2 separate regions of the Homo sapiens genome follow, and region 2 is linked to region 1. The links come from fine-mapping of genetic effects on gene expression. A gene starts in region 1. The other region holds a variant in brackets. All regions are shown on one strand. Distances are from middle to middle. Region 1 holds the start of ZNF30 (zinc finger protein 30). Region 2 holds the start of FXYD5 (FXYD domain containing ion transport regulator 5).

Region 1 (15,683 bases):
TCTGACAATCAGATGGCCCCACCCAACCTGTGACTCAAACAGTCCTGTTGCCCCCACCCAGAAGCAGACTCAGTGCATGAGGACCATTTTCGTCATCCCTATGATTGCATTCCCCAACCAGTCGGCAGCACCCATTCCCTAGTTCCCTGCCCACCAAAGTATCTTTGAAAAACCCCAGCCTCCAAATTTCAGGGAGATTGATGAGTAATAACTCCATGTCCCTCGTGGCATGGCCAGCCTCTCATCAAACTTTTTCTTTACTGCAAAGCCATGGTCTCAGTGGATTGATTTTTTCTGTGCAGTGGGCAGGAAGAACCGATCAGGTGAATATATATATATATATATATATATATATATATATATATATATATATATATAAAATAACACAACAGGAATCCCACAGGTACTGAGTTCTTTTTTTTTTTTTTTTGAGACAGAGTTTCACTCTTGTCATCCAGGCTGGAGTGCAGTGGTATGATCTCGGCTCACTGCAACCTCTGCCTCCCAGGTTCAAGCAATTCTCCTGCCTCAGCCTCCCAAGTAGCTGGGATTACAGGCATGTGCCACCATGCCTGGCTAATTTTGTATTTTTAGTAGGGATGGGGTTTCACCATGTTGGCCAGGCTGGTCTTGAACTCCTGCCCTCAGGTGATCTGCCAGTCTCAGCCTCCCAAAATGCTGGGATTACAGGCATGAGCTACCGCACCCAGCCAGGGTTCTCAAAGCTCTCTCTCCACACTTCTAGCTTCCCTTTATCCTTTGAAGGTGCTTTGCCCCAACAATTCCCTTGTAAGTCTTATCCTATTGTTGTATCTTCTCTTCAGGGGACACCTGCACTGACAGAACATGTTATATGTTGGTTTGGGGCAAAATATGATTGCTAGTTGTCATGCTTACACATAATTTGCTGTCACCATATGAACTGGAGAAAACTCCTTCCCTATACCTTTAAAATGCTTGTCCACTTCCACTTGGAAACTGAATGGCACCAATGCCAGGCTAGTGGTTTTAGAAAGTGGCTCTCCAGATCTAAAATGTTTTCATGGATAAACCCCCTGTGTCCTTGTATTCCCCTACTAGCTTTTTAAACTCTTCTGATTTCCACCAAATAGAAGTTGCATATGGAAATATGCAGTTAGATGGGCCACCTGACTCCAATTGCAGCCCTCAGTCCACCATCTGAAAAAGCTCAGGAGATCTCAGAATTCTCCTAGTCTAAACTGACCCTTTTATTATAATTATTTTTTCTTGAGATAGGGTCTCACTCTGTCACCCAGGCTGTTAGATCAATGCTTCAAAACATAGCTTCCTCTGAATCTGCAGTACAAAAGATGTTCTGCTATGTCTATTTCTGATAGCCTCTTCCTATACTGATACTTTCTTTACTAGCATATATAGATTGCTTGCTTTAACAATTCAACCGAATATTTGATAACATCAAATTAATTTAACTCTATCACAGGTTGGGTTTGCAGGCAAGCAGACATTGAGATGGAGGTTATCACACAGGGCAATTATTTGGAATGGCTCTTGGCCTCAGTACCTGGGGAAGGTGGAGGAAGTAAACAGGATTGGGCAGAGGGAGTAGACATGTTATGCATTCACAACAAAGGCCTCAGCCAATCCCACAGGAAGCTCTGTATCTGTAAAAGACCTTCAATGTGGTCCCAAGTTGGGAGGGAACCCTAGCTTTTATGCTGTCACATTAACTAGTCAATGAATGTGGGCATCCTCCTGCCAAAAGGGCATTGTTCTGACCACTTCTTCATGGAACATCTTCCTGTGTCTCCAAATTGTGGGGAAAAGAAAGAGAGATCAGACTGTTACTGTGTCTATGTAGAAAGAAGTAGACATAAGAGACTCCATTTTGTTCTGTACTAAGAAAAACCGTTCTGCCTTGAGATGCTGTTAATCTGTAACCCTACCCCCAACCCTGTGCTTGCAGAGACATGTGCTATGTTGACTCAAGGTTTAATGGATTTAGGGCTATGCAGGATGTGCTTTGTTAAACAAGTGCCTGAAGGCAGTATGCTTGTTAAAAGTCATCACCACTCTCTAATCTCAAGTACCCAGGGACACAATACACTGCGAAAGGCCACAGGGACCTCTGCCTAGGAAAGCCAGGTATTGTCCAAAGTTTCTCCCCATGTGATAGTCTGAGATATGGCCTCGTGGGAAGGGAAAGACCTGACCATCCCCCAGCCCAACACCCGTAAAGGGTCTGTGCTGAGGAGGATTAGTAAAAGAGGAAGGCCTCTTTGCAGTTAAGATAAGAGGAAGGCACCTGTCTCCTGCTCGTCCCTGGGCAATGGAATGTGTCAGTGTAAAACCCGATTGTATGTTCCATCTACTGAGATAGGAGAAAACCGCCTTAAGGCTGGAGGTGAGACATGCTGGCGGCAATACTGCTCTTTAATGCACCAGATATGTTTATGTATGTGCACATCAAAGCACAGCACCTTTTCTAACCTTGTTTAGGACACAGAGACATTTGTTCACATGTTTTCCTGCTCACCCTTTCCCCACTATTACCTTATTGTCCTGCCACATTCCCCTCTCCAAGATGGTAGAGATAATGATCAATAAATACTGAGGGAACTCAGAGACTGGTGCCGGCACGGGTCCTCCCTATGCTGAGCGCCGGTCCCCTGGGCCCACTTTTCTTTCTCTATACTTTGTCTCTGTGTCTCTTTCTTTTCTCAGTCTCTTGTCCCACCCGATGAGAAACACCCACACCCAGCTTTAAAATTTCTCCTTTTGTACTCTTTCCCTTTATTTCTCAGACCGGCCAACACTTAGGGAAAATAGAAAAGAACCTACGTGAAATATCGGGCTGAATTTCCCCCGATACAAATCACTTATTCCCTCGCCTCCTTTAAATATTTGCTTAAGTATCATTTCCCTATGAGAGCAACCCTACCCCCTCCATTCCCTACTGGAGTCCCTCCTACTCCACAGGCTTCTCATCACTGGGTTCTGCTCCTCCTGTTTCCTTTCCTATTGCACTTTTCACCTTATAAGTCACTACGTAACTTATAACATAAGTTTTTTTTTTTTTTTTTTTTTAATTGATCATTCTTGCTTGTTTCTCATAGAGGGGGATTTGGCAGGGTCACAGGACAATAGTGGAGGGAAGGTCAGCAGACAAACAAGTGAACAAAGGTCTCTGGTTTTCCTAGGCAGAGGACCCTGCGGCCTTCCGCAGTGTTTGTGTCCCTGGGTACTTGAGATTAGGGAGTGGTGATGACTCTTAACAAGCATGCTGCCTTCAAGCATCTGTTTAACAAAGCACATCTTGCACTGCCCTTAATCCATTCAACCCTGAGTGGACACAGCACATGTTTCAGAGAGCACAGGGTTGGGGGTAAGGTCACAGATCAACAGGATCCCAAGGCAGAAGAATTTCTCTTAGTACAGAACAAAATGAAAAGTCTCCCATATCTACGTCTTTCTACACAGACACGGCAACCATCCGATTTCTCAATCTTTTCCCCACCTTTCCCCTCTCTCTATTCCACAAAACCGCCATTGTCATCATGGCCCGTTCTCAGTGAGCTGTTGGGTACACCTCCCAGACGGGGTGGTGGCCGGGCAGAGGAGCTCCTTACTTCCCAGTAGGGGCGGCCGGGCAGAGGCGCCCCTCACCTCCCGGATGGGGCGGCTGGCCGGGCAGGGGGCTGACCCCCCCACCTCCCTCCCGGACGGGGCGGCTGGCCGGGCGGGGGACTGACCCCCCCCACCTCCCTCCCGGACGGGGTGGCTGCCAGGCGGAGACGCTCCTCACTTCCCAGACGGGGTGGCTGCCGGGCGGAGGGGCTCCTCACTTCTCAGACGGGGCGGCTGCCGGGCGGAGGGGCTCCTCACTTTTCAGACGGGGCGGTTGCCAGGCAGAGGGTCTCCTCACTTCTCAGACGGGGCGGCCGGGCAGAGACGCTCCTCACATCCCGGACGGGGCGGCAGGGCAGAGGCGCTCCCCACATCTCAGACGATGGGCAGCCGGGCAGAGACACTCCTCACTTCCTAGATGGGATGGCGGCCGGGAAGAGGCGCTCCTCACTTCCTAGATGGGATGGCGGCCGGGCAGAGACGCTCCTCACTTTCCAGACTGGGCAGCCGGGCAGAGGGGCTCCTCACATCCCAGATGATGGGCGGCCGGGCAGAGGGGCTCCTCACATCCCAGACGATGGGCGGCCAGGCAGAGACGCTCCTCACTTCCCAGACGGGGTGGCGGCCGGGCAGAGGCTGCAATCTCGGCACTTTGGGAGGCCAAGGCAGGTGGCTGGGAGGTGGAGGTTGTAGCGAGCCGAGATCACGCCACTGCACTCCAGCCTGGGCACCATTGAGCACTGAGTGAACGAGACTCCGTCTGCAATCCCGGCACCTCGGGAGGCCGAGGCTGGCGGATCACTCGCGGTTAGGAGCTGGAGACCAGCCCAGCCAACACAGCGAAACCCCGTCTCCACCAAAAAAATACGAAAACCAGTCAGGCATGGCGGCACGCACCTGCAATCGCAGGCACTCGGCAGGCTGAGGCAGGAGAATCAGGCAGGGAGGTTGCAGTGAGCCGAGATGGCAGCAGTACAGTCCAGCTTCGGCTCGGCATCAGAGGGAGACCGTGGAAAGAGAGGGAGAGGGAGACGGGAGAGGGAGAGGGAGACCTTCTGAGGACTGTCAACATAAGTTATAACATAACATATATAACATAACTTGTTATGTTATATTGTATATAACATAACTTATAACATAACTTATAGCATAAGTTACATATATGTAACATAGGTTACATAACTTATAACACCTTATAAGTCACTATGTAACTTATAACATTTCCTTTATTATTTATTGTCTGCTTCTCTCAATTCAAATTAAGGTAGATAAATTTCTTTGTTCACACATCTAGAAATGCATCTGCAACAGGGCGGGTGCTCAGTTAGTATTTGTTAAAACACACAGGAACCATGGCTTTACACCTGTTTACTCTCTCTAAATCAACCCTCAATGATTCCTTTCCCTCCACATTTATGATTGTTCAATGTTATCAGGAAGAGAAATAAATCATAATTTGAAGAAACAAAAATTTAATGGTAGCCACAATTATAGTAGAACCATTACCTCAACTGAATTCCTCACATCTCAGAACTCAGGATTCTGTACTTACCTCCCACTGGGACGTATCTTTTCCAGGCATCACAGATAATTTTCTTCTCCAGCTATCTTATGATTCTTTTTGTATAATTTCATTAATCAACATTAACAGCCTTCTAGGAATTGCTCACTTCACAAATGTTTTTTGGAGGTAATCTCAGTTCCCTATGAAGACTCTGTCTCTGCACTTCCAGATGAGAGGAAAATCACTCCCAGAAAGAGATGAGACAATGGAATCCCAAGCCTTTATCTCAGCGTTCGGATGACCTCTCTTGACAAATGCACAAGATAATACAACTGCGGCCACTATCCTAGTTGGAAACACAATTTGGTAAGTGGTTATTCTTTTCAGATAAACGTATGGAACTTAGACGAAATATATTTCAGGAAATGCAGTGAGAAACATTATAAGGGGGAAAGTTCTGCTCTCCTAGATTAGAACATCACTGACAGTGGCCAGAGAAAGTTTCCTGAGGGATCAGGGACTGTCATTTTCCACTGGATGCTCAGATTCCAGCTGTAGGGTTTGTGAGTATCCTTCCTCCCTCTTCCATGAGACAGCCTCATCTGAAATCTCCAATTTACCTCTGACGATTAAACACCTAGACCCTCACTATAGTCACACAAGTCTTCACTCAAAACACAAGGGCATAGCAGTAAGATTGCGATCCTTAGCTGTCATCTATGGAGTGATCACTTTTGAGGGGCACTTTTTGAATAAATCATTTCAAAATCATTTCAAAAATTTTCTCAAAAAAAAAACCCTATGATTTAAAAATTTCTTTGACATTCTAAGTATTCTACTAATCTATTTTATTTCTACCCACCATGGAACCCACATTTCCCTCTGCAAAATACAAATTTCTATTGTATTCACCCCTCACCCCTGAACATAAATTTATCCTCCCAAACAAATTTCTGCCCAGATGACATTTTGACGGCTATTTACACATCCCCATCTCAGAGAGCACATTGTACATAATTTGGCCCTTAATGCAGCCTCTATGAAAAGTCCTTTAATCAGGGGACTAGATGAGTCCTTATTTGTCTTGAATGTCTCTAGTTCCTCCAGGACAGAAGTGATCAGTGACCACAGCCAGTTCAGGAATCACAGGATATTGCAAATTTGTCTCCGATTGACATGAATTGGGTGGATTCTCACTCCAGGTCTATCACCTTCTTATTTGTTAATGAAATATTTGTCTTCAGACATTGTAATAGATACCCAATGAGTTTCAGAGGGTTTGAAAATGAACACTTTAGACATGAATAGCCTATATGGTGAACTTACAGAGGCAAAGCGACTGGTCAACAAACAGCTGCTCTACCAAAAAAGCCTGGAGTTACAAAGCAGATGAACATTTTTGCAGAGCTGGAAACTAATTCCAATAAGGCTAAAAACTTGCTACTGCTGGTAGGGAAAATCCTAACTATTGACAGTCAAATGCTTTTGATGCGAGGCTACTTAGGTTGATGTTGATAAGAGAAAAGTTCCCTTGTCCCCCTGGCAGGGCGTGCGATGGGGGTGTGGCTCGCTTCTTCAGTGTCCCGCTGCTCAAACCTCCAGGGGAGTATACAGACGGGCGGGCTGTGGGGCTCTGACCCCATGGCAGTGTCTAGGGGTGAATGTTTATAGCTGAAGCCCCAGTGGGCGTGTTACAGGATGCTCTTTAGCTGTCCGCAGGCGGCTTATGTTAGTCAATTCAATTAGATCCCTGCGTTATCGCAAGGACAGAGGGCTTTCATATCCCGGGGTTCCTGTCTTGGTGTACCAGAAGAATCAGATCACACATGGGCTTGGAGGATGACTGCAGGGTTTTGAGTGGAAGTAGCTCTCAACAGTTGGGGGAGCCAGAAGGGAAATGGTTTTCCCCTGGAATCGGGCTGCTCCGCAGCACCGGCTCTCCTTGGACTGCCCCAGCCAAACTCCGCGTCCTTCTGGTGGGTGGCCTGCCCGCGTGCCAGCGTCTGTCATGTCTTCTTCCGCCAACATGTTCCTCTGGATGTCCAGCGGCTTGTGTGTCTGCTTGCTAGGGTCTCAGAGTATTTATAGGGACAGGATGGGGGCGGGAACAGGATGGGGGCGTGGCAGGCCAGGGTGGTCTTGGGAAACGCAACATTTGGGCAGGAAAACAAAAATGCCTGCCCTCACCTAGGTCAGTTGGCACAGGGCCAGGGGTGGAGCCCTAGCCAGGGACCACACCCTCCTGTACCCAGCACCTCCCTTTCCCCCTTCCATATCATTTAAAGGGACCCCGCCCTTCCCTCCCCAGCACTCCCCTTCCCCACCTCCTTATCAATGTCATCACCCTGGACTGACTCCAGGAATCACTGTAATGTGGGCTTAATAAGAACAGAGCTCGGCTGGCCGCGGTGGCTCACCCTGTCATCCCAGCACTTTGGGAGGCTGAGGCGGGTGGATCGCTTGAGCCCAGGAGTTCGAGACTAGCCTGGGCAAGATGGCAAAACCCCATTTCTACAAAAAATATACAAAAATTAGCCAGGTGTAGTGGCGCGCCCCTGTAGTCTCAGCTACTCTGGAGGCCGAGGTGGGAGAATCACTTGAACCTGGGAGGCAGAGGTTACAGTAAGCCGAGATAGCGCCACTGCATTCCAGTCTGAGCGACAGAGGGAGACCCTGTCTCAAAACAAAACAAAAACAAAACAAACAAAAAGCGGAGCTGACAGTCAAGGTGAATTTCACGTTTGCCTGTATTCAGTTTTAGCATTACATAAACCAAAAGAAGAATGCCATAAAGGCTACAGGCAGCTAATACAGAGAGGTGTTACTGGAAAAGGAACCAGAAAGAGTAAATATCTCCTAAACGTATGATGGGACAGAAAGATAAATGCCTATTACATATAGTTAATATCTGTTTGATTAGCCTTATTTACATTCTCCTTTTAAAAGGTCTTACATTTAGCATCTTAGATAGAACCCACAAAATTTAAATATTTAATAGAAACTTAAAATTCCTGTATCAGAGGACAGAAATATATTTTTCTCACACGTGATTAGTCTAATTGCCACTATTAATCCTATTAATATTCTGTTAAATAATAGCATTTCTGTAGCGAAAAGCAAACAGTACGGAAAGATAATTTCAAACACCTAGTTTTCATATTTTTGTGTTAAAGTAATAACATATTTTGGTATAGATTATCATTTTTTGTTTGTTTTTGTTTTTGCTTTTTCTGACCTGGTGTGTTAATGCCCTGGGTTGGCCCTCTAAGAAGCTGGCCACCTACTTCGGGCCTCAGGTGTCAGACGCCCCAGCTTCGAGGTCTATGGCTCCCAGCAACTCGAGCGCCTGCGCCTGCGCATTCTCAGCCGGACGGGAGCGCCCAGAAGTCTCCGGGCGCCGGTGGGCGGCCTTGTGGACTGCGCCGGGCATGCTCGGCGGTGTGACGGCTCAGGACTGCATTTCCCAGAGGCTGCAGCTATCCGGCCAATGTAGCCTGAAACTACATTTCTCAGCGGCCACTGGAACGACCTCAATCTCTGCCTCCTCGCCAGTTCATTGTGGTCGTTGACCCGGCAGCGAGCTTTGGAGTTCATCGAGGGAGAAGTCAGCGCCCAGCTCCGAGGTTGGAGCAGCCCCGCCGGGCAACTTGAATTTCTGCAAACGAACACAGCACCGGGAGCTCTGCAGACCTGTGTCGGCGCGGAACCCGGACTGAGACATGCGTGAGCGTTGGGTGGACCGGGCGAGGATCCCGGGCCGGCGAGTGCGGGAGCGGCAGGGCAGGGAGGGTGCGTCGGCCGGGGCCGGTGTGCATCCGCGAAGACTGGGTGCATGGCCTCCATGCGAACCTGAGCTATTAATATTTGTTACTATTTTGGATAAAATCACTGTAATTGATTTATGTAAAGGAGCAAAAGACTCTTCAACTCTCAGTTTAAAAAGGAAACGATAGTTATGATACCTTTTGCATGCAGCGGGAAGAAATGGGATTGCCAGGAAGCCTCTTCTTGTTTGGAAAAAACTGTATAAAGTATTTACACCTTTTAAAGATGAGAGCAATGTCATCTGAAAATTATCAGTGCAGGGAAAAGGACTTCAAAGGATCTGTTGTGCAGATTACTTAACTAATGACAAAATTATGTAAGAAAGGAGAGCAAGATGACAGCTGTAAACATTTCCATCAATCTCCATATTGCACAGAAATAGGACCCAGCTTTTTCTTAAGGTTCTTCAATTTTGCATTATCCCACAGCAGTAGCTCTCTCTCTCTAGCTGCTAGGGGACAGAGGAAATTGAAATGTCAGAGAATCTTTTCTGTTGGTTTTTTATTTGTTTGTTTTTAAAGAAGAGTTGCTCTTAATTTTTTAGTTAGAATTAAAAGAAAGCATGCCAGAGAAACTTACGTTTTAAGTAAAAAGTGGAAACAGGTCGGGTGCCATGGCTCATGCCTGTAATCCCAGCACTTTGGGAAGCTGAGGCGGGTGGATTGCCTGAGCTCAGGAGTTCGAGACCACCAACATGGCAACATGGTGAAACCCCGTCTCTACTAAAAATATAAAAATTAGCCAGGCATGGTGGCGTGCGCTTGTAGTCACAGCTACTTGAGAGGCGGAGGTGGGAGAAGTGCTTGAAGCTGGGAGGCGGCGGAGGTTGCAGTGAGTGGAGATGGCACCACCGCAATCCAGCCTGGGCGACAGAGCGAGATCCCTTCTCTAAAAAAAAAAAAATATATATATATATATATATATATATATATATATAGATAGATAGATAGATAGATACATAAATTAAATTAAGTGGAAACAAGTGTTTAATTAAAATGAAATAAAGGATGTATAATGTTTACGTAATAACTCCAATGCAGTAGTGCCCCCTTAATCGGCAGTTTCACTTTCTTCACTTTGTTACCCTCAGTCAACCATGATCTGAAAATAGGTGATTTTGGTACAATAAGATATTTTGAGAGAGAGGGGCCATGTTCACATAACTTTTATTACAGTATGCTATTATAGTTGTTCTATTTTATTATTAGTTATTGCTATTACTCAATTATGGTGGCCGGGTGCGGTGGCTCACGCCTGTAATCCCAGCACTTTGGGATACTGAGATGGGTGGATCAATTGAGGTCAGGAGTTCGAGACCAGCCTGGCCAACATGGTGAAACCCTGTCTCTAGTAAAAATACAAAAATTAGCCAGGCGTGGTGGTGGGCACCTGTAATCCCAGCTACTTGGGAGGCTCCCAGGAGGTGGAGGTTGCAGTGAGCCAAGATCACACCACTGCACTCCAGCCTGGGCAACAGAGTGAGACCCTGTCTCAAACAAACAAACAAACAGAAAAATAAAAATCTCTTATGGTGCCTAATTTATAAATTAAACTTAATCATAGGTGTGTATGTATAAGAAAAAACATAGTATATATGGGGTTCCGTCAGACATCTACTGAGGATCTTAGAGTGTATCTCCCCCCTGTGGATAAGAGGGAGCTACCATAGTAAGAGCTAACTCGGCTGCGCGCGGTGGCTCACGCCTGTAATCCCAGCACTTTGGGAGGCTGAGGCGGGCGGATCACGAAGTCAGGAGATGGAGACCATCCTGGCCAACATGGTGAAATTCCGTCTCTACTAAAAATACAAAACTTAGCTGGGCGTGACTATGCGCCTGTAGTCCTAGCTACTCGGGAGGGAGGCAGAGGCAGGAGAATCACTTGAATCTGGGTGGCGTAGGTTGCCGTGAGCCAAGATGGCGCCACTGCACTCACTCCAGCCTGGGTGACAGGGCGAGACTCCGTCTCAAAAAATAAAACAAAACAAAACAAAACAAAAGAGCCAACTCATGTTAAGCAAGTATTCTATTAACTTTTGGGGTGGGTTTTCTTATTCTTCAGGACAACCACATGTTGGAGCTGATACTCCTATTACTATTTTAGTGATGAGAAAACTGAGCCATATTAGTAACTGCCTGATCATTTTCTCCTATGTTCTCTACCTCCCGTGTCTTGACCAACCTCAGATTTATACTGTCACCATTAAAGAAGCTCTGGATTGGGTGATATGGACTCTTTCTTAGGCTTAGAACGTGGGAATGGAGTGAGGAGAATCTGTTCAAGAGAAGACTGTGCAACCCAATTTGAGACCTAGATCAACATTCCCAAAATGGGGGCCTGGTGGGAAAGCTTGTGTCTGATTCTGCCTTCCTTAAGAAGTGCCACACCTCTGCGATCAACTCTGTACAGCTTAGTTAACTGGGGCTTGAATTCCACTGTTCTCCAAATTTTGTTTGAGGGTGTTTGTAGCACAGTTTGGAAGCTGAAATGAAGGGACAGGAAGGTTTATTAATGTATGTCATTGAGAACACTAAAGCCTCCTTTTCTCCTCTCTGGATTTTCTAGCTTTTGAACTTCTCAGATAGAGGAACCCCAGTGAAGACTGATCAGTTCTTACAATTCTCAAAGCATGGCCCATGTAAGTTGGTGTTTCTTCTTGAAATATGGGGATTTTTATATTACGTGGCTATTTTCCTTAATTGACCTGAAGCATTCTTCATCAGAATGTACCATCTAATTGCCTACTTGATTCCTTCTGTTTGGCGGAATGATGTCAAAGTATCGTTTCCTCCTTACGAGGTCCTCATTTCTAATCGGTGTTCATGAATTCATTGAGCAAGTTACGAAGCAGGTAAATAGTAAGTCTTAGCTGAAAGGCTGTGATAGAGCAGTGGAGGATTGAAGTCCCGTGGCAGAAGTATTTGAGCTTCCTACATCCATCTGTGGTTTGATGAGTTTGATCTGTTGGCTTCATCTGGCCACACATCAGAAGATTTGAAGTTTTCCACAGAGCTGATAAGATGGAATTTTGTATTGATTGGTCTCAATATGATGAGATAACATGCTCTATGAGGCTTTTAAGATTGAGTGGGGATGTGATTATGATGTGAAACATTGATATCATGGTTCTTCTTGGGATGCCTGAGAGTGATACTAAGGTCAATTTTGTTATGGAATGGGACCTGCCAGACTTGGACAACATGCATTTGGTTCTGAGTCATTTTCACCCTAATCCACTAACTCAAGAACAGCCAAATGGCCAGGTGCAGTGGCTCACACCTGTAAACCCAGGACCTTGGGAGCCCCAGGTGGGAGGATCACTTGAGCCCAGGAGTTCAAGACCAGCCTGGGCAGCATGGCAAGACCCTGTCTCTACCAAAAAAAATTTTTTTTAATTAGCCAGGCATGGGGGCACATGCCTGTAGTCCTAACTACTTGGGACCCTCAGACAGAAGGACACTTGGAGCCCAGGAGTTCAAGATTGCAGTGAGCTATGGTCATAGCACTGCACTACAGACTGGGCAACACAGTGAGACTGTGTCTCAAAAAAAAATTTAAAAAAACAGCAGCCAAAGTATTAAGTGAAGGATCTTGTATGACACTATCAGCATATTGTTATCAGTAGTAGATGAACAGATTACCAGAACTGGGGAAAACTGAGGCATTTGTTACAGTCTTCGTTTATAAGTATAAAATCATTACTTTTTTTTTTCTTTTTTTCTTTTTTTTTTTTTTTTGAGACTGAGTCTCGCTCTGTCACCCAGGCTAGAGTACAGTGGCACAATTTTGACTCACTGCAACCTCCACCTCCTGGATTCAAGTGATTCTGCTGCCTCAGCTTCCCAAGTAGCTGGGATTACAGGCACATGCCACAACGCCCAGCTAATTTTTGTATTTTTAGTAGAGATGAGTTTCACCGCATAGGCCAGGCTGGTCTCGAACTCCTGACCTCGTGTGATCCACCCACCTCAGCCTCGCAAAGTTACTAACCTTTAATACAGATCCACAAGATAACTTTTATGTCACTTTGGAAAAAAGTATTTATTAATATAAGGAAAAACACTTATGATCTGACATAATGAACTTGAAGCTTGAGGAGTTATTCAACAAATTTGTGTCATGGCTATTTTCTAAGACAGATTTTATTCTACAGTTGGAGAAAGGAATCATAGCTATTTTCTTCTTAAAGGGAAAGTAATATAGAGACTAATTGTTTTTGAGAATTTGTTTCATTGGATACCTAGCAGGCCATATCTTTGTATGTACTCTTTTACTTAACAGGGAAACTAGGATTCTTTTATCCATTTCACCACAAATCTGGAGTATTATGATAATCCTACAATATATAGGACATTTTGTCCATAGCAGCAGGATTCTTCCAGAACATGCAGATACCATGCTCATCCACTTGCCACATCATAAGCTTCCAGCCTATGTGATTGTTATGTTATTGCTCCCTTACTACACTGAAACGTTTTATTCCCTCTCCTTTCACCTTGAAAGCATTTTCTTTGATTTTACCAGAAATATGTGGGTTTGCAGTATCACGGATCAGTGACATTTGAGGATGTGGCCATAGCCTTCTCCCAGCAGGAGTGGGAGAGTCTGGACTCTTCCCAGAGGGGCTTGTACAGAGATGTGATGTTGGAGAACTACAGGAACTTGGTGTCAATGGGTAAGTGTACTTCTCTCAAATAATTGAGAATCTGCTCCCTGTTATACTTTCTCCTTTGCAGATTTTAGGGCTAGCTTAAGAACTGAACACGATTTCTTCTTGTTGCCAGAGAAATGATTTGAGCTTTGTTAGGTTGGAAATGATCCAGTGGCAGGATTAGAATTCTGGATTGTCTATTGCAAAACATTGACAAAAGAGGCCAGGTTTTCTATTATGTTTTTGCTCTAAATTGCTCTAAATGCTCTGTGAAAATCTGACCCACCTTGCAGGCAGAACAGCTAGACAAAGGGTCTTGATTTGTTCTATCTGAAGACCTATACAACTTATATGCCGGCGGATTGGATAAACAAATCATTTAAAACTGAAGTTACCTCATTTTATTTCATATAAAATAATCTGATTTTGTGGTTAAAATTCATCATCTCTGAACTTTGCATTTAAGAGTAAATGCAAATTAAATCTATATCCTATAGATATAGATGTCTAAGCAGACTTTGTTTTTGTCTTAGCAAAATAACAATAATAATGTTATTAACACACAGCGTGCTTACTGTGTGCTGTTTCACTGTTCTCTGCTCTTTATATTAATATACATTTGTATTAACTGATTTTTAACCTTACAAGCACTCTATAGGTGCTAACCATTTTAGGTGAGAATGCTAAATAAAGCACAGTGTGTTTAAGTGAGTTACGCAAGATCACACAGCCCATAGGTGACGGTAGCAGAAACTTGAACCCAGGCACTTAGGTTCCACAATCCGCGTTCTCAATCACAATGTCATACTTTCTTTTTTTTTTTTTTTTTGAGACATAGTCTCACTCTGTTGCCCAGGCTGGAGTGCAGTGTAATGATCTCAGCTCAGCGCAACCTCCACCTCCCAGGTTCAAGTGATTCTCCTGCCTCAGCCTCCCTAGTAGCTGGGATTATAAGCGTACACCACCACACCCAGCTAATTTTTGTATTTTTGATAGAAACAGGGTTTCACCATGTTGACCAGGCTGGTCTCGAACTCCTGACCTCAAGTAATCTGCCCACCTGGCCTCCAAAAGTGCTGGGATTACAAGCATGAGCCACCGGGCCTGGTTTTTTATCAAGACACAAAGAATAAATGAGTATACACTTATCTATATTTATAATAGTTAGATAGATAGATAGATTTCATTTAAAATAAAACCTTTCGGCTGGGTGTGGTGGTTCATGCCTGTAATCCCAGCACTTTGGGAGGCCAAGGTGGGCGGATCACGAGGTCAAGATATCGAGACCATCCTGGCCAACATGGTGACATCCGTCTCTACTAAAAATACAAAAATTAGCTGGGCGTGGTGGCACATGCCTATAGTCCCAGCTACTCGGGAGGCTGAGGTGGGAGAATTGCTTGAACCCGGGAAGCGGAGGTTGCAGTGAGCTGAGATCGCACACTGCACTGCAGCCTGGCGACAGAGTGAGACTCTGTCTCTACATAAATAAAACCGTTCTCTACCTGTCTGGAATTATGAATCCCCTTGCCCTTCTCGTGTCTGAGATATAAAGGTCAATATCGTTTGACCTTTCATTTATGGCAAATTTAACCAAAGCTGGAAGTATTTTTGAACTCATATTTTATTTCTTTTCTACATTCTTATCTCATAAGCAGGACATTCCCGTTCTAAACCACATGTGATCGCCTTATTGGAACAATGGAAAGAGCCTGAAGTGACAGTGAGGAAAGATGGAAGAAGATGGTGCACAGGTGAGTAAGAGCATGGCAGGTAGGGAGGCCATTGTTGCTGGAAACAGCCCAGCTGTCAGGGAGGAAGTGCATCTCTGCAATGTTTGGAGGTTTCCCTTCAAAGCCCTAGGGCCTGGGTGGAAAAAGGCTGAGACTTGGGTAAGAAATAAATATCTCACCAGCCTCACAAAAGGAACTTCATCTTTACTTATTTTAATACTCACTCACCTCTTGTTTCCCTCTCATTTTATTACGGACTTAAGTCACTTTCCCAGTGCATTATTCCATCTGTGTATTGAATTTCACTTCTTTCACCTCCTCTTTTACATTTGGATTTATTCATATATTCTTAGACAGTAATAGT
Region 2 (15,683 bases), 230 kb after region 1:
GTCTCAGCTACTTGGGAGGCTGAGCAGGGACAATCTCTTGGAGCCCAAGAGGTAGAGGCTGCAGTGAGCCATGATTGCACCACTGCACCCCAGCCTGGGTGACAGAGTGACACTACATCTCTTAAAAAAAAAGACAAGAATATTATGAGGCAAGAATATTAGGCAAGAATAATTCCTATGAAGTAAAATAAAGAAGGGAATGAGATTGGAAAGTGTGGAGGAGAGGATGGAAATTCTGAATAGGACAGCCAGAGGTTTTGCTCACAATCAAATAAAGCCCAGACACTGGTGAGGGAAGGAGCCACGTGGATATTTGGGGGAAGAGCTTTCAGGCTGCAGGAACAGCCAGTGCAAAGGCCTTGGGATAGGATCATGCTGGATATGCCCCAGGAACAGTGGGGAGGCCACTGTGGCTGGAGTAGGATTGATGGGGAGAGTGAGGTGGGGTGAGGTCCAAGAAGGAAAGGAACTGGATCATATGGGACTTTGAGGGCCCTAGTGAGGAATGTGGTTTCTACCTTGAGGGCAATGGGCGGGAGGAGGGCTCTGAGCAGAGGAGAAACCAGATCTGACTCAAATGTTGATGGGTCCTTGTGGCTATCAGAGGTGGGAGTGCAGGCAGGCCAGCAAGACCCTAGAGAAGGCTGCTGCAGAGGCCAGATGGGCGACAATGGTGGACAGAACCAGGGCCAGGGAGGAGGTGGTAGAGGGAGAGTATTATATATATATCCAGGGTGGAAAGCGCAGGGGGAGAGGGCAAGGGAGGAAAGTAGAGGGTACAGAGGGCAAGGGGAGCTAACGGTGCCCAAGCCCACACCCTACATCCTCACATCAACCCCCTGAAGGAGTGTCCAGCACAGTCCACAGCCTCCCTGGGCGATTCTGGGTTCCTGGCTGGGCCACCCAGAGCCAGGACTGGGCTCCAGGTGCAGCCAAGGTGCTGTCCCTGCCTCGATGTCCCCCATTATCTTCCCCAGACTACAACACGGTGCAGACTGTGGGCATGACTCTGGCAACCATCTTGTTCCTGCTGGGTATCCTCATCGTCATCAGTAAGTGCGACCCATTCCTGGGCTGCCTCAGCCTCCGCTTCCTCTGCTGGCTTTCATCCATATCCTACCCGCTATGTCCTGTCTTCTTGTTCTGTCTCTCTCTCCCAACAGGCAAGAAGGTGAAGTGCAGGAAGGCGGACTCCAGGTCTGAGAGGTCTGGCAGCAGTGGGCAAAGAGCGGGAGGGGGCCTCGGGGTGCCTCCCTAGCAGATGGGCAGGATCCACTGGGCCTGCCATGCGTTTTCCCCAAAGCCTATGGTTATTGAACCTCTTTCTACTTTTCTCTCTCATCTCTGCCTCCACAGCCCAACCTGCAAATCCTGTAAGTCTGAGCTTCCCTCTTCAGGTGAGGGTGAGAAACTGTGTGGTTCTGGGAGAGTTTTAGGTGGGGCAGGGAAGGGAACCCTCAGAAGGGAAGTCGCGGGGATGGACTGGACGCAGGGGGCGGAGGGGGGGTGGTGCCTGCAGATATCACAGGACAATTCCCTAGGAAGCTGAGGAAATTCCGCAGATGAAAGATGCTAAACCTGGCTGGGCGCGGTGGCTCATGCCTGTAATTCCAACACTTTGGGAGGCTGAGGCAGGCAGATCACCTGAGGTCAGGAGATCGAGATCAGCCCGGCCAACATGGTGAAACACCGTCTCTGCTAAAAATGCAAAAATTAGCCGGGCATGGTGGTGCGCACCTGTAATCCCAGCTACTCAGGAGGCTGAGGCAAGAGAATCACCTGAACCTGGGAGGTGGAGGTTGCAATGAGCTGAGGTTGTGCCACTCCACTCCAGCCTGGGTGATAGAGTGAGACTGTCAAAAAAAAAAAAAAAAAAAAAGAGGAAGGAAGAAATGAAGGAAGGAAGGGAGGGAGGGAGGGAAAAGAAAGATGATGCTAAACCGTGGGGAGGCTGTGGGATGTGACATGTCCCAGAGTCCACAGAGATTCCCAGAAACAAATGCTCAAGCCTATAAAAGCCAGGACAAGCTGATTTGCCAGGAGAGGAAGACACAGGCCTGTGAAGAGAAGGGCCCCATGTGGGAGGAGCTCTGTCAATCAGGAGGGAGAGAGAGGGAGCACTGAGGAAGACGGGGAGAGGCTTTCCAGACTTGATCGTTCAGCCAGGCAGATCCAGGATGAAATAGCCGAGGAAGCGGGACAGAGGGAGGGAGGGAAGGTTTCTGAATAGTTGCATCAAAATAACAAAAAGAGAGATGAATAGAATGCAGATTTTAGAATTCACATTGGAAAAGAACATATGGGATGCAGGGAATGTGAGGATGGAGAAGAAAGCTGGGAAGAACAGGAGGGGAGAGAGTGGAGAGGACGGAGGTGTTGGGGAGAATGTGGGAAGGAGGAGCCCAGGAAGGAAGGGGAGGAGGATGGGAGGAGGAGGGCGTGGAGGGTGGAGGAGGGAGAATGGGTGTAAGCATGGAAAGTGTAAAGGGAGAGCGAGAGGGATGCAGGGCAAGCATGTCAACGAAAGACTGATCTCTTTGAGGCTGTTAATTTTAATTATGTAAAAATAACTTGACCTGTTTTTAGTGGAAATGCAGCCTTTCTGGAGACTTGTAAAAGAACAGAAATGGGAATTTCTGTGTCTCTTATAAAGTTCTTATAACTAAAAAAAAAAAAAAAAAAAAAAAAAATGCGGGAGGGGGACACGGGTTATTCAATGGTTGAGAAGTATTTGGTGTGGAATTTGTTTCACGTTCCTTTTTTTTTTTTTTTTTTTTTTTTTTTTTGAGACAGAGTCTTGCTGTGTCCTCTGTTGCCCAGGCTGGAGTGCAGTGGCACGATCTCAGCTTATTACAACACTGCAACCTCTGCGTCCTGGGTTCAAGCGATTCTCCTGCCTCAGCCTCCCAAATAGCTGGGACTACAGGCACACACCACCACACCCGGCTAATTTTTATATCTTTAGCAGAGATGGTGGTTCACCATTTTGGCCAGGCTGGTCTCAAACTCCTGACCTCAAACGATCCGCCATCCTCGGCCTCCCAAAGTGCTTGGATTACAGGCGTGAGCCACAGCGCTTGGCCTGTTTCATGTTTATTTAATGAGTTTTAAAACATGAACAAGGCACTTATGGATGCGTGGGGCAGCATGGGGGTTGGCCTTGTCACCTGGGGCACAGCTGAAGACTTTGCACAGGTTTCTGGTCTATCCTAGGTGAATGATGGTCTGCAGCGGGTGGGGAATGGGGGACTTCCCGTTGTATCCAAATGTTCAGGACAGGGAGTGTAGGAAAGGAGTGAGGGTGTAGGAGGAGATTGCAAATGGGAAGGGAGATGGGGACTCCCTTTCTGGCAGGCGGATAGCCCCAAAAGCCCAGGTTGGGTCTGGGGTCGCCAGCCCCGTAGCAGGTGTTTCTCTCCATGACAGCAGCCAGGAGGTGTCCCCAAGGGAACAAGACATTAGAGTGTGGGAGGCAAGACAGCTCCTCAGTGTTAGCTCTGGGGTGACAGTCCCTGGGGTCTGGCTTCCATGGTGCCGGGGAATGGAGAGCCAACGAGCTGTGGGGAGGGAGGCAGTTTCCACCTTTCTAGTGGCTCACGCACCCCCTCTCTCCCCAGCCCCTGGTGGCGGCGGCGTGTAACACCTTCCCGAGGAAACTCCGCTGCCGACCCTGCCTGAGCGCGGGAGCCTGAGGACCGGGTGGAGGCGGTGGGGACCCAGCCGCGCGCCGGGAGCGCTCCCCGGAATGAGCCGCCCCACCCACCCCAAGGCTGGAGCCGCTGCACCCTGCTGTCCCTCTCCAGGCCTTGGCAATGACGATCCCCCAAAGAGCCCGTCTGCACCCCAGACCCAGGGCCTCAGGCCTCCAGCTCCTGGGATCCGGGAGTCCATCCCGGCCCAGCACCCCCAGCATCCCCGTGTATGGCCCCCCTGCACCTCCTTGTCTCATCCCCGAAGATCCGTCCCCCTGGCCCCTCAGTGTCCATGTCTTGAGCTTAATAAATGTGCATTTGGTTTTTTCCTCTGTTCTGTCTGTGTGTTCTCATCTGTGGGGCACGGTGTGGGTAGGGGTGCAGAACTGAACCTGGGGTAGCTCTCCCCTGCGTGCCCGGAGTCGCCCCCTCTTCATTCTCCTCCCCCAGTGCCCCGAGATGCCCCCCTTCAATCCCTTCTCCTTCCTCAACACCTCCGGATTTGTCCTTTCCCTTCCTCCAGCGACCCCAGAATAGAGCCCTCCCGTTTCTCCCCCTGCTCTCTCAGAGGCGTCCACTCACCCTAGACCTGCCTGCCCCATCCCCGTTCCCACCCTCTCCCACCACTATGCCCTCACCCCTGCCCCCCGTCGCCCTCAGCGATTCCCCCTCCTGCTCCCACCCCGGGCTCTGAAGCCAGGAAACCCAAGAGGAAATGACTGAGCCCGTCTGGGTCCCCGCCCGCTCGCGCTCCCCTGGCCACACCCTCCGCCTGGACGCAGCAGCCACCGCCGCGTCCCTCTCTCCACGAGGCTGCCGGCTTAGGACCCCCAGCTCCGACGTAAGTCCCTCTCGTGCGCCACCTCCATCCGCTGCCCCTCTGCCCACGGGCCGGGCTCAGGTGGGTAGGGGTTTGACCCCTTCCGCTCCTCTCCGCCCCCCATCCACGCCCACATCTCTCTGCCTCCTCTCCTGGGCTACAGTGGGCCGCTCTGCCTCGCTCCCGCCCGCCTGCCTCAGTCTCCCCAGCTCTCTGCCACCCCCCTCGGACCAGTGCCTCTTAGGTCTCTCCAGCGCGCCATCCCTGCAAGGCGGCCCCTGACACCAACTCACTTTTTCCTCTGAGCGCGGGAGGCGTTACTCACTCTTCCTCCTTCCCCTCCTCGCCGACTCCCGGGCTCTGGGCCCCTGGGGGAGGGAAGAGGCCTCCTATCTACTCCTCTGCCCCAGTCCCCTCCTTGCGTCAGTCCCAGTGAGGGATAAGCGCCTGGCGGAAGGCGCAGGGAGGTGTTTCTCTGCTTCAGGAGTGCCCGCCGGCCCTTGCAGCTGCTGGAAGACCCATTTATCTCATGCTTCTTGTTTTCTTTGGGGACCTGCAGGGGAAGGAAGCAGGGTGACGGTTTGGTATCCCCACCTAAGACCCTCCCCTTTCCCCTGAGGCCAGCCGTCAGCCCCTGGCAGGGGGTCTTGGAAGCCAGAGGTTTTTGCTCAGGGCAGGGAAAGGGCTGCAGGATCCCCGGGGGCTGCCGGAGGTCGGTCTCACTGACATCATGGCTGACCCCAGCATCGCCTGGTCCCACAGATGTCGCCCTCTGGTCGCCTGTGTCTTCTCACCATCGTTGGCCTGATTCTCCCCACCAGAGGTAAGACCCATCTCTGGCCTCCACCCTGCCCCAGAGCCCCCAGCCAGGCCAGCCCCACGTGTGCTGCGGGGTGGGTGGTTGGCCCGTGTGAACGTTGTCCTGCCCTGTCACCCTCCCGCTGAGCCGGCACCAGGAAGTGGGGATCCCTATGGCGGGGCGACGTTACACCCTCTTTGGACACCTCAGACCCGGGTGGCTGCTTCCAGTGAGTCTGGCCAGGGCCTGTCCTGCTGAGCATCCTCCAATTTCACCTCCAAGAAGAACTCACTGAGTTTCATTTGGCGGGGAGATTGGTGTCGGTTTTCTACTCAGCAGCCAGGAAACCTAGGCTCCCAGAGTCCCCAGGCATTACACAGTTAGGCAAAGCTGTTGAGCTGGGGTTAGTCCAAAGAGTTGGCAACATCTCAGCCTTGCCTGGAAAGTGTCTCCTGAAAGATGGGAACCACAGGGGGGTATTGATCGTTCTTTCTGTGTGGCAGGTGTGGTGTGTGTTAGGTCAGTTAGGCTTTGCCTCTGACAGTCAGTCACACCTGTTGTCTTGCCCATTTTACTGATGAGGAAACTGAGGCTCAGCGAAGGGAAGTGCCCTGTGTCAGAGGAGAATGGGTGGAGGAGCTGAGAAAACAACTGTCCTGCCTGCCCCCAGAACCCAGGGTGCATGCCCCACTGAAGGCGCCCTCATTTCTCCTTCATAAAATGATTTTCATATACTCGTTCAGTCATTTGACAAATATTTATTGAGCACCTACTATGTGCTAGATATTCTGTGCACTGGGGAAACAGCACTGAATAAAACAAGAGGTCACACTCTAGTGGAGAGAGACAAGTTAGTAAATTATATCGTGTGCTAGGAGGTGATACGTGCTTGCAGAAAAGTAGAGGTAATGAGGATTGTTTAAACTGGGTGGTCAGGGAGGGCCTCACTGAGGAGGTGACATTTGGACCAACAAACACTTGGAGGAAATGAGGGAATGAGCTTTGCAGGTGTCTGGGGGCTGAGTGTTGTCTGGTGTGTTTTAAGAATAGCAGGCAGGTGGGGTGGCTGGGTTGGGATGAGAAGGGGCAGAGTGGGATGACGAGAGGACAGAGAAGTGATGGGACCAGATGGAGGAGGACTTACGGGCCACGTGAGGGCTTTGCTTTTATGTGGAGTGAAGTGCAGCCAGGGCAGGGCTCTGAACCAGGCGGGCCCCGACCTGACTCAGGTGGTCCCAGGCTCCCTCTGGCTGCAGGTTGGAACAGACTGTGGGGGCGGAGACAGGAGCAGGGAGCCCAAGAAGGAGGCTGCTGGGATGTCCAGGCTGGAGGGTACAGAGGCAGGACCAGGATGGGGGCAGTGGAGTTATCCAGCACTGACCACATGGTAAGCCGTGTGGGAGACCCTTTCCCTGCTCTGTGTCATTTCACCCTATCTACAGCCCTGTGAAGTAGATTCAGTTATTATCCCTGCTTTGCAGATGAAGCAACTGAGGCTCAGAGAAAGGACTTCACTTGTTCCAGGTCACACAGCAAGAAAGTTGTTGGGGGCAGGATTTGAAACCAGGGCCCAGGCTCACCCTAGCACCTGGGCTCACTAGACTAAACTGACTTTCCCATCCCACAGGGATGGGCGGGGAGGGGGACTAGAAGAAGGGTTCCCAGGCATTGGCATAGCTGAAAACACTTTCAGAATTATGGATTGATGCAGCCAAAGCTGAGTGATTCCACCAGCAGACAGGACCCCTAAGGTTTCACCAGGGAGGCGAGGGCGGGGGTGGTGAGAGGAGGGGGACCAGGCTCCCTCCTGACTTCTCATCCTTGATTCCCCAGGACAGACGTTGAAAGATACCACGTCCAGTTCTTCAGCAGACTCAACTATCATGGACATTCAGGTCCCGACACGAGCCCCAGGTGAGGAAAGGGACACATCTATCAAGATCCTGTCATTGCAAATAACAACAGCAACAAAAATCCCAAACTTGGACCAAACAAGGGAATTTATGGATTTATGTAACGAAAAAGTCCAGGTACAGACCTTCAGGCATGGCTTGATCTAGGTGCTCAAATGATGCTATCAGAACCTCTCTCCACCTCTTGGTTCTGTTTTCTCTGTGTTGGCTTCATTTTCAGGAAGAGTCTCCTCTCATGGGGCCAAGATGATCCCTTGAAGCCTGGGGCTGTCATCCTGTCTGCTAAGAATCCCAGCAAGAGAATTTCCTTTCCCCAGTCCAGCAAATGTCCCAGAACTGAGTTATCTTTGGCCAGGCTCAGGTCGTATCCCTGAGCTGGCCACTGTGGCCACAGGCATAGAAAGCTGATTGGCCAGGCCTGGGTTCCATGTCCAACCTCCACCAGGGCTGGTGTCAGCCCCGCTGAATAAAGTGGACCAAGAGTCAGGGAAGGATGGTCCCTAAAGGAAGTTCTGGGGGCTTTTATCAGAGCAGGTGCATTTGGGAAGCTGAGTTAAACATGTTTTTTTAGGCAGCACTTCTCAGAGTCTTGAGAAAGACAATTTGCAGCCAGCATCTCGAAGAAGGAGCTGTAGTGTGGCATCTGTGGGACGTAAGGTCCCAAAGAAGGGGACATATTGGTTACACATTTCGGCAGTTAGCAAATGGCTGGATTAATTAAGCCATTTCTATTACATTAAAGTTGAGTTGCTACGGGAATCTCTGGCATCTCCACCCATAGACCTTGCCCACTTCTTTTTCTCTCTCCTTTTCTCTCCGTGACTCCTTGTTTCTGGACTCCAGATGCAGTCTACACAGAACTCCAGCCCACCTCTCCAACCCCAACCTGGCCTGCTGATGGTGAGTAGTGCAGGGGCAGGCGGCGGGGACA[G/A]GACCAAGACAAACAAAGTTTCCCCTCTTCCTCTGACACTATAGGTCTTTGGTTGCCCATTTCAGTCCCTACTCCCAGCTCTGAATGCCCTGGTTTACTCTGGGTGGGGACAGCCAACTCCATTCAATTCTTTAGAAAAAGAAAACCAAAACGCTTTTGAAATTGTGAAATTAACATGCATATAGAAAAATACAAAACCCATAAATTTACAGTGTAATAACTTACTCTAAATTGAATCCCTATGTAACTACCAACCGGGTCAAGGAGCAGAACTTTGCAAACACCCCCAGAAAGTCTCTGTGTGCCAGTCCCATTTATTTCTTCCTTTCATCTCTTTTTTCTCTGATCCCTTTTTTGAATTTTTTGAACAATTTTTGGACGTTTTCTTGAAGTATAATTCAAAAAGTGCTCCCGGCCAGGCACAGTGGCTCATGCCTATAATCCCAGCACTTTGAGAGGCCAAGGTGGATGGATCACTTGAGCTCAGGAGTTCTAGACCAGCCTGGGCAACACAGTGAGACTCCATCTCTACAGAAAAATACAAAAATTAGCCGAGTGCGTTGGCGTGCTCCTGTAGTCCCAGCTACTCGAAAGGCTGAGGCAGGAGAATCACTTAAGCCCAGAGGCAGAGGTTGCAGTGAGCCAAGATCTTGCCACTGCACTCCAGCCTGGGCAACAGAGCGAAACCCTGTCTCAAAAAAAAAAAAAAGTGCTCCCTGATTTTTTCAATCGATGTTTAAAGACACAGTAGTACAAAAACACATTCTGCCTGGAAAGAATAAAATGATTGTAGGCAAAACTAAACCCCTTTGTCACCTCCCCTCCCCAATCCTCGTTCTCTCCCTCTGTCTCTGAGAGGTCCCCACTGTCAGCATTGGGGTAGGTCCCCAGTGATACCACATCCCATGTATATTACTTGGAGAAAATGCACTGACTGTGTGCTGTGTTTGTGTGAGCTTAAGGAGACCTTATGATTGTTCTGCAGCTTGCTTTGTTTCTTCGTGCAGTCGTATGTTTGGAAGTTCTTCTCACATCACTGCATAAAGACTTGTTTTGTTTTCTCTCCTGCCTGGTATTCCACAAGGCGCCTATATCACAGCTTATGGAGTCACACACTTCTTGATGAACATGTTGGCTGTTTCCAGCTTTTTCTGTCTACACACAGCACCACAATGAGCAACTTTGTCCCTTCCTCCTTGAGCAAACGCACTTGGAATATGTACTGACTATGTGCTGGTCATGGTTCTAAATATTTTGCGTATGTTAACTCATTCAACCTTCACGCAAACCCTAAGAGGCAGAAATTACCATTGTCCCCATTTTACAGACAAGGAAACAGAGGCTGTGAGTAACTGGTTCAAGGTCTCACAACAAGTCAGGGACGCAGCTGGAATCGAAGTCCAGGAATCTGGCACCAGAGCCTGTGCTTTTATCCAAGACAATACAGGGCAAAGGACATGCATGCTTAATGTTTTAAAATTTGCCCTCCTGCCGCCCAGGCACAGTGGCTCATGCCTGTCATCCCAGCACTTTTGGAGGCTGAGGCGGGTGGATCGCTTGAGCCCAGGAATTTGAGACCAGCCTGGACAACACAGCAAAACCTATTCTCTACAAAAAGTACAAAATGATTAGCTGGGCATGGTGGCATGTGCCTGTAGTCCCAGCTACCTGGGAGGCTAAGGCGGGAGAATCACTTGAGCCCAAGAGTTCAAGGCTACAGTGAGCTATGATTGCACCACTGCACTCCAGCTCAGGTGATAGAGTGAGACCCTGTCTCAAAAATAAATAAAAGTAAAAATAAAAGTTCCCCTCCCAAGTGACTGTACCCATTTCCTAACCCACCAGCAGTGTGCAGGAGTGTCCCCCTTCCCAACCCTACAGTGACACTTGGTATACTGACATTTTCAGGTTTTGCCAGCCTCTTAGGTTTTTTCTGAGATGGAGTTTTGCTCTTGTTGCCCAGGTCGCTGTGCAATGGTGCAATCTCGGCTCACCACAACCTCTGCCTCCCAGGTTCAAGCAATTCTCCCTCAGCCTCCCGAGTAGCTGAGATTAGAGGCATGAGCGACCACGCCCAGCTAATTTTGTATTTTTAGTAGAGACAGGGTTTCTCCATGTTGGTCAGGCTGGTCTCGAACTCCCGACCTAAGGTAATCTGCCCGCCTCGGCCTCCCAAAGTGCTGGGAATACAGACATAAGCCACCGCGCCCGGCCCCAATTCTCTTTCCCCAGTGACTCTTTCTTATCCTTCCCTCCTTGCTCTCCTGACCTGAATAGAAACACCACAACCCCAGACCCAGACCCAGCAACTGGAAGGAACGGATGGGCCTCTAGTGACAGATCCAGAGACACACAAGAGCACCAAAGCAGGTATAGCATGGGACTGAGAGCAGCAGCCTACGATTTTTGTTTAATTCTCTATCTAGGTCAACATTTCCCTCAGTACGTTTCTCAGTGCCCCTGTTTGGGGAATTGTTAATACATTTAAAAAAAATGTTTTTGGTTTGTGGTCAAAGTTATTTGGGGAACCCTGAGTTAAAGTTAACCATGTTTCTTTGTGGCAGGACTTCTGAGAGTCTTCATTAAGCTAATTTTCAGCAAAGGATCCCCAAGGGGCAGCGTGCAGTATGCAGTGTTTCCCTAACTGATAGACTTTGGAACTTTCTTTCTGTCAGTTCCCCTCGGAGGGCTGGGGCTATAGAATGTGCCTGTGGATATTTCTTTTTTGTACATCTCCTTAATGTTAGAGCAGGAGCTTTTCAGTTGCAAAATATAGAAAATTCACCTTAAACACACACACACACACACACACACACAAAAGAATGATTGGCTATATAAGTTCTGGAAAGTCCAGAAGTAGCCAACTTCAGGCATAGCTGGATCAAGGCGAGTAAGCACTGTCATGAGTGCTTTGTTCCCTCTCTTGGTTCTGTTGTCTTCATTCTCTACTAACTTCTCCCCTCTTGATGGCAGAGATGGTCCCATAGTTCTAACTTTAGGTCACATACGTGGTGGCTAGAGAACAAAATCTTTCCCATTATTTCTAGCCTGAGGCCTAGAATTGACTCTCATTGGTTCAGCTGGAGTCACATGCTCATGTCTGAACCAATGAGAGCCTGAGAAATGAGCTGCTCTCATTGGTCAGGCCTGAGTCTTGTGCCCCACCCTGGGGCTAGAGAAGAGGCTCAGCCAGCCATGCCTGAACCACATAGACCAAGAGTCAGGGAAGAGGGGATTTTCCTTTGGACAAGTGAGTTAGTATTACCAGAAGGTGTGGGAAAGGAGACTGAGCTGAGATAAGGCAACAGATCGCCTCTAATGCCTGCGTGATGATCCTTATTTGAGGGGCAGCCCCACACTGGAAAGTGTTGTAGAGTAGGCCACTCCCAGAGAGACATGTACAGTTGTGCAGACTGGGTACTGAACGAGAGCACCACCTCTCGGGCAATGCCATTCCCTTTGTCGGTCTTTATAATTGTTCCAGTTTTCTAGTGATAGCAGCAAAGCATCTCATTCTTACAGAATCTATCTATTAAAACAATCCTACAATGGATGGAAATAAAGTGCTTTACAGAAGGGAACTTTTCTAGTTTGTACAAAAGTGCACCTGTAGGGGTGGGGGATAGCAGCTGTGTCCACACTTATCAATGATAAAGCATTCTCACATCACTGCATTAATTTACTGAGTCTTTGCTGACCTGAGTTGCTCTATGTATTGGTCCATGTTCCTGGATATATGTGACAGAAATTCATCAAGGACAAATGGCTGTCACTGCTGAGCCTCTGGGTTGCCTAGAGGCTGGGCATGAAAGCCCCCAGGGCCTCTCTTCCTCCTCTATCTTTGCTTCTCTTCCACCTAGGAAGGAAATGGCTCATGTTATTTGAGCCTCCTAGCTCAAAACTTCCAGACTTCACCTAGGGTTTTAATCTGCTCAGGTTACGATAACAAAATACCACAGACTGGATGGCTTAAACAATAGGAATTCATTTCTCCCGGTTCTGGAGATGGGAAGTCCAAGATCAAGGTGCCAGAAGGGTTGGTGTCTGTCGAGGGCTCCCCTTGGGTCACAGACAGCCATTCTCTTGCTCTGTCTTCACCATGTCCTCTCCATGTGTGGGTGGGCTTGTGAGCTTGAAAGCAAGCTCTCTGGTGTCTTCTTATAAGGGCACTAATCCCATCATGAGGGCCCCACCCTCATGATCCTATCTAACCCTAATTACCTCCCAAAGGCCCTCGCTCCAAAATACCATCACATGGAATTTGGTGGGGTGGATAGAATTCAGTCTATAGTACCTAGCTGTCACTCAATATCCCTACTTGGGATTTCAAAGGTCTCAGGGAAGGACCAGACTGAGGTCACAAGCTTCCTTTTGTAGCCTGGGTTATAACTGGGGAAGGGAGGGCAATGTCTTCCCACAAAGAAAGGGAGAGCTGTTCCAGAAGGAGGAAGAGTGCTGAGCAGACAGTAATAGCAATGGCTGACTTTTGCTGAGAGCTTGTTCATGCTGGGCACTGTGCTAAGCTTCTGTGTATTCAGTCATTTGATGCTTGTGATCATCCTGTGTGGTGGGAACTGTCATTACTCCCATTTTACAGGAAAAGGAACTGAGGCCCAGAGAGGTTACTCAGCTTGCCCTAGGCAATACAGCCAAGAGTGGCAGAACCGGAATTTGAGTCCAGACTGTCTCACCCCAGGGTGCATGAGCACCACACACCAGTATGGCTGTCCTTCGCATTCCTGTGGTCTCTGCCGTGGATCTGGCTTATACCTTCCTCTGGGCAATGCATTCCCTGAATATCTTGTAATCCTTGGTTGCCAGTTCCTATTTAGGGTGTGGGGCACTGAGATAATTCCAGGGAACTTGGGTTTCACGAGGGAGCTTCTCTGTCTGCTGGCTTCTTGTTGAGGCCTCCGATGTGGTGTGGGGGCACTTCTCAGTGCTTGGGGGAGGCCTTTTCTTTGGAGGTACTGATTTTTTTTTTTTTTTCAAGAGAAGAATCCTTTGGTATTTTCGGTCTGGGGGCAGAGGTGATATTCAGAATAGTTTTGTTGTTGTTGTTGTTTTTGAGACAGAGTGTTGCTCTGTTGCCCAGACTGGAGTGCAGTGGCGAAATCTTGGCTCACTGCAATCTCCACCTCCCGAGTTCAGGCAATTCTCCTGCCTCAGCCTCCCAAGTATCTGGGATTACAGGTGTGTGCCACCAGGCCCAGTTAATTTTTGTATTTTTAGTAGAGGCGGGGTTTCACCATGTTGGCCAGACTGGTCTTGAGCTCTTGGCTTCAGGTGATCTGCCCGCCTCAGTCTCCCAAAGTGCTGGGGTTTACAGACATGAGCCACTGCACCCAGCCAATATTCAGAATGTTTTACAAGTTTCTCCAGACTATGTAGCTGGGTCAGAGTCCTTGGCAGGTGTTGCCCTTTCGTTCCTTTATCTCCTGGATTATAGTGTGGGCCAGAAGGTCCTAGGAGAGGGGTCTGGAGTCCCTCGGGGATTGAGGCAGATCAGATAGTCGCAACCGGGGCTATGTGCTTATTTCAGCATTTCAATGCCTGTCATTACTTATTGCCTCTAGGTGTGGAGTAGGGGGGATGCCTGACCCTGCACACCAGCTGTGTAGATGTGGGAGAGGGGTTTCTTCCAGATGCAGACTCTCAGTAATATCCCTTGTTTCTGCCTCCATGGCTCACTCCTGCCCTCCACTGATCTGGCCACTCTCTCAGCTCATCCCACTGATGACACCACGACGCTCTCTGAGAGACCATCCCCAAGCACAGACGTCCAGACAGACCCCCAGACCCTCAAGCCATCTGGTTAGTAACTGCCTCCCCAGACTGGAAACAGGCTATTTTCTGTTCACTGTGTATTTCCAGCACCTGGAGTACAGCCCAGCACAGAATAGTTCTCAGTAAAGACGTGATGGGAAAGTAAATGACTTCAAGCCAGGCAGAGGGTGGGCACATGATAAATGTCTGAATAGATAAGTGAATGCATAAATTATTGCTGCATACAAACCACCTAAAAACTCAGTGGCTTAAAAGGATAACCATTTATTTAGCTCTCATTTCTGCAATTTGGAAATCTAGGGTGTGCTCAGCTGGCTGGTTCTTCTGGTTTCAGCTGGACTTACTCATGCGTCTGAGGTCAGTTGTGGGTCAGCAAGGACCTCTGTTTCTAGGGGCAATTTGATTCTTTCCCTGGTGATCTTATCCACCACTTCCTGCCCAGTCAGCCCCCCAGTGAATGAATGGAAATGATACGCCCATGGGTCACATAGAGAGCCCATTCATCCATTCATTCAACAAATAGTCACTGAGTACTTGTGTGCTAGGCTAGTTCTAGGGGACAGAGATAGAGTGGTGAACAAGCCAGAAAAAATCTCTGCCCTCATGGAACTACTATTCTAGTGGTAAGAGAAACACAACAAGAAATAATCATAATTATGTATCAGTTGATTTCAACTTGCTATCAAGAAAAGTAAAGTAGGGTTAGAGAGTGACTGGGGAGTACAGGTTGAGTATTCCTTATCCAAAATGCTTTGGACCAGGAGACTTTCAGATTTCAGATTTTAGAATATTTGCATTATACTTACCAGTTCAACTTTCCTGACCCAAAAATCTGAAGTCCAAAATGTTCCAGTGGGCATTTCCTTTCGGTGTCATGTCAGACTGTTACTGGAAAGGGGTTCCGATCCAGACCCCAAGAAAGGGCTGTTGGATCTTGCACAAAAAAAGAATTCAGAGAGTCCATAGAGTTTATTTAGAAAGTAAAGGAATAAAGAATGGCTACTCTATAGGCAGAGCAGCCCCACAGGCTGCTGGTTGCCTGTTTTTATGGTTGTTTCTTCGTTATATGCTAAACAAGGGGTGGATTATTCATGAGTTTTCTGGGAAAGGGGTGGGCAATTCCCAGAACTGAGGATTCCTCCCCTTTTTATACTGTATAGGGTAACTTCCTGATGTTGCCATGGCATTTGAAACTGTCATGGTGCTGGTAGGAGTGCCTTTTAGCATGCTAATGTATTATAACTAATGTATAATGAGCTGTGAGGATGACCAGAGGTCACTGTCATTGCCATCTTGGTTTTGGTGGGTTTTAACTGGCTTCTTTACTGCAACCTGTTTTATCAGCAAGGCCTTTATGACCTGTATCTCGTGCCGACCTCCTATCTCATCCTGTGACTAACAATGTCTAACCTCTGGGGAATACAGCCCAGTAGGTCTCAGCCTTATTTTACCCTATTCGAGATGGAGTTGCTCTGGTTCAAACACCCCTGACATGACATCAAAAAGTGTCAGATTTGGGGACATTTTGGATTTTGGATTTGGGGATTAGGGATAGTCAACCTGTATTTCATATACAAAACCAGGGAGGGCCCCACTGGGAAGGGAGTGAAGGAGGGAGCCATGCGGATGTCTAGGGAAAGTGTGTTCCAGGCAGAGGAAACAGCCAGTGCAAAGGCCCTGAGGTGAGAAGGTGTCTGCATGTTCAACAGCAGGGAGGCCAGTAGGGCTGGAGTGCAGGGAG

The links.
Region 2: its variant is fine-mapped to the expression of ZNF30 in visceral fat (GTEx, PIP 0.98).

What each region holds. Positions count from the first base shown.
Region 1 is chr19:34,918,384-34,934,066 of GRCh38, forward strand. It overlaps ZNF30 (zinc finger protein 30), which reads left to right and starts at 8,520. Exons shown (of 5, transcript NM_194325.3): 1 at 8,520-8,833; 2 at 11,501-11,573; 3 at 13,460-13,610; 4 at 15,245-15,340. The coding sequence starts at 11,565. It overlaps ZNF30-AS1 (ZNF30 antisense RNA 1), which reads right to left and starts at 8,443. Exons shown (of 3, transcript NR_110749.1): 1 at 8,346-8,443; 2 at 5,159-5,451; 3 at 4,632-4,668.
Region 2 is chr19:35,150,277-35,165,959 of GRCh38, forward strand. It overlaps FXYD7 (FXYD domain containing ion transport regulator 7), which reads left to right. Exons shown (of 6, transcript NM_022006.2): 3 at 978-1,052; 4 at 1,164-1,206; 5 at 1,357-1,397; 6 at 3,618-4,026. The coding sequence ends at 3,640. It overlaps FXYD5 (FXYD domain containing ion transport regulator 5), which reads left to right and starts at 4,459. Exons shown (of 9, transcript NM_014164.6): 1 at 4,459-4,533; 2 at 5,275-5,335; 3 at 7,145-7,225; 4 at 8,068-8,124; 5 at 10,433-10,525; 6 at 13,880-13,969. The coding sequence starts at 5,275. RefSeq lists a silencer at 828-1,227 and enhancers at 1,926-2,477, 3,427-4,291, 5,230-5,399. The variant G/A (reference allele first, on the strand shown) is at 8,156.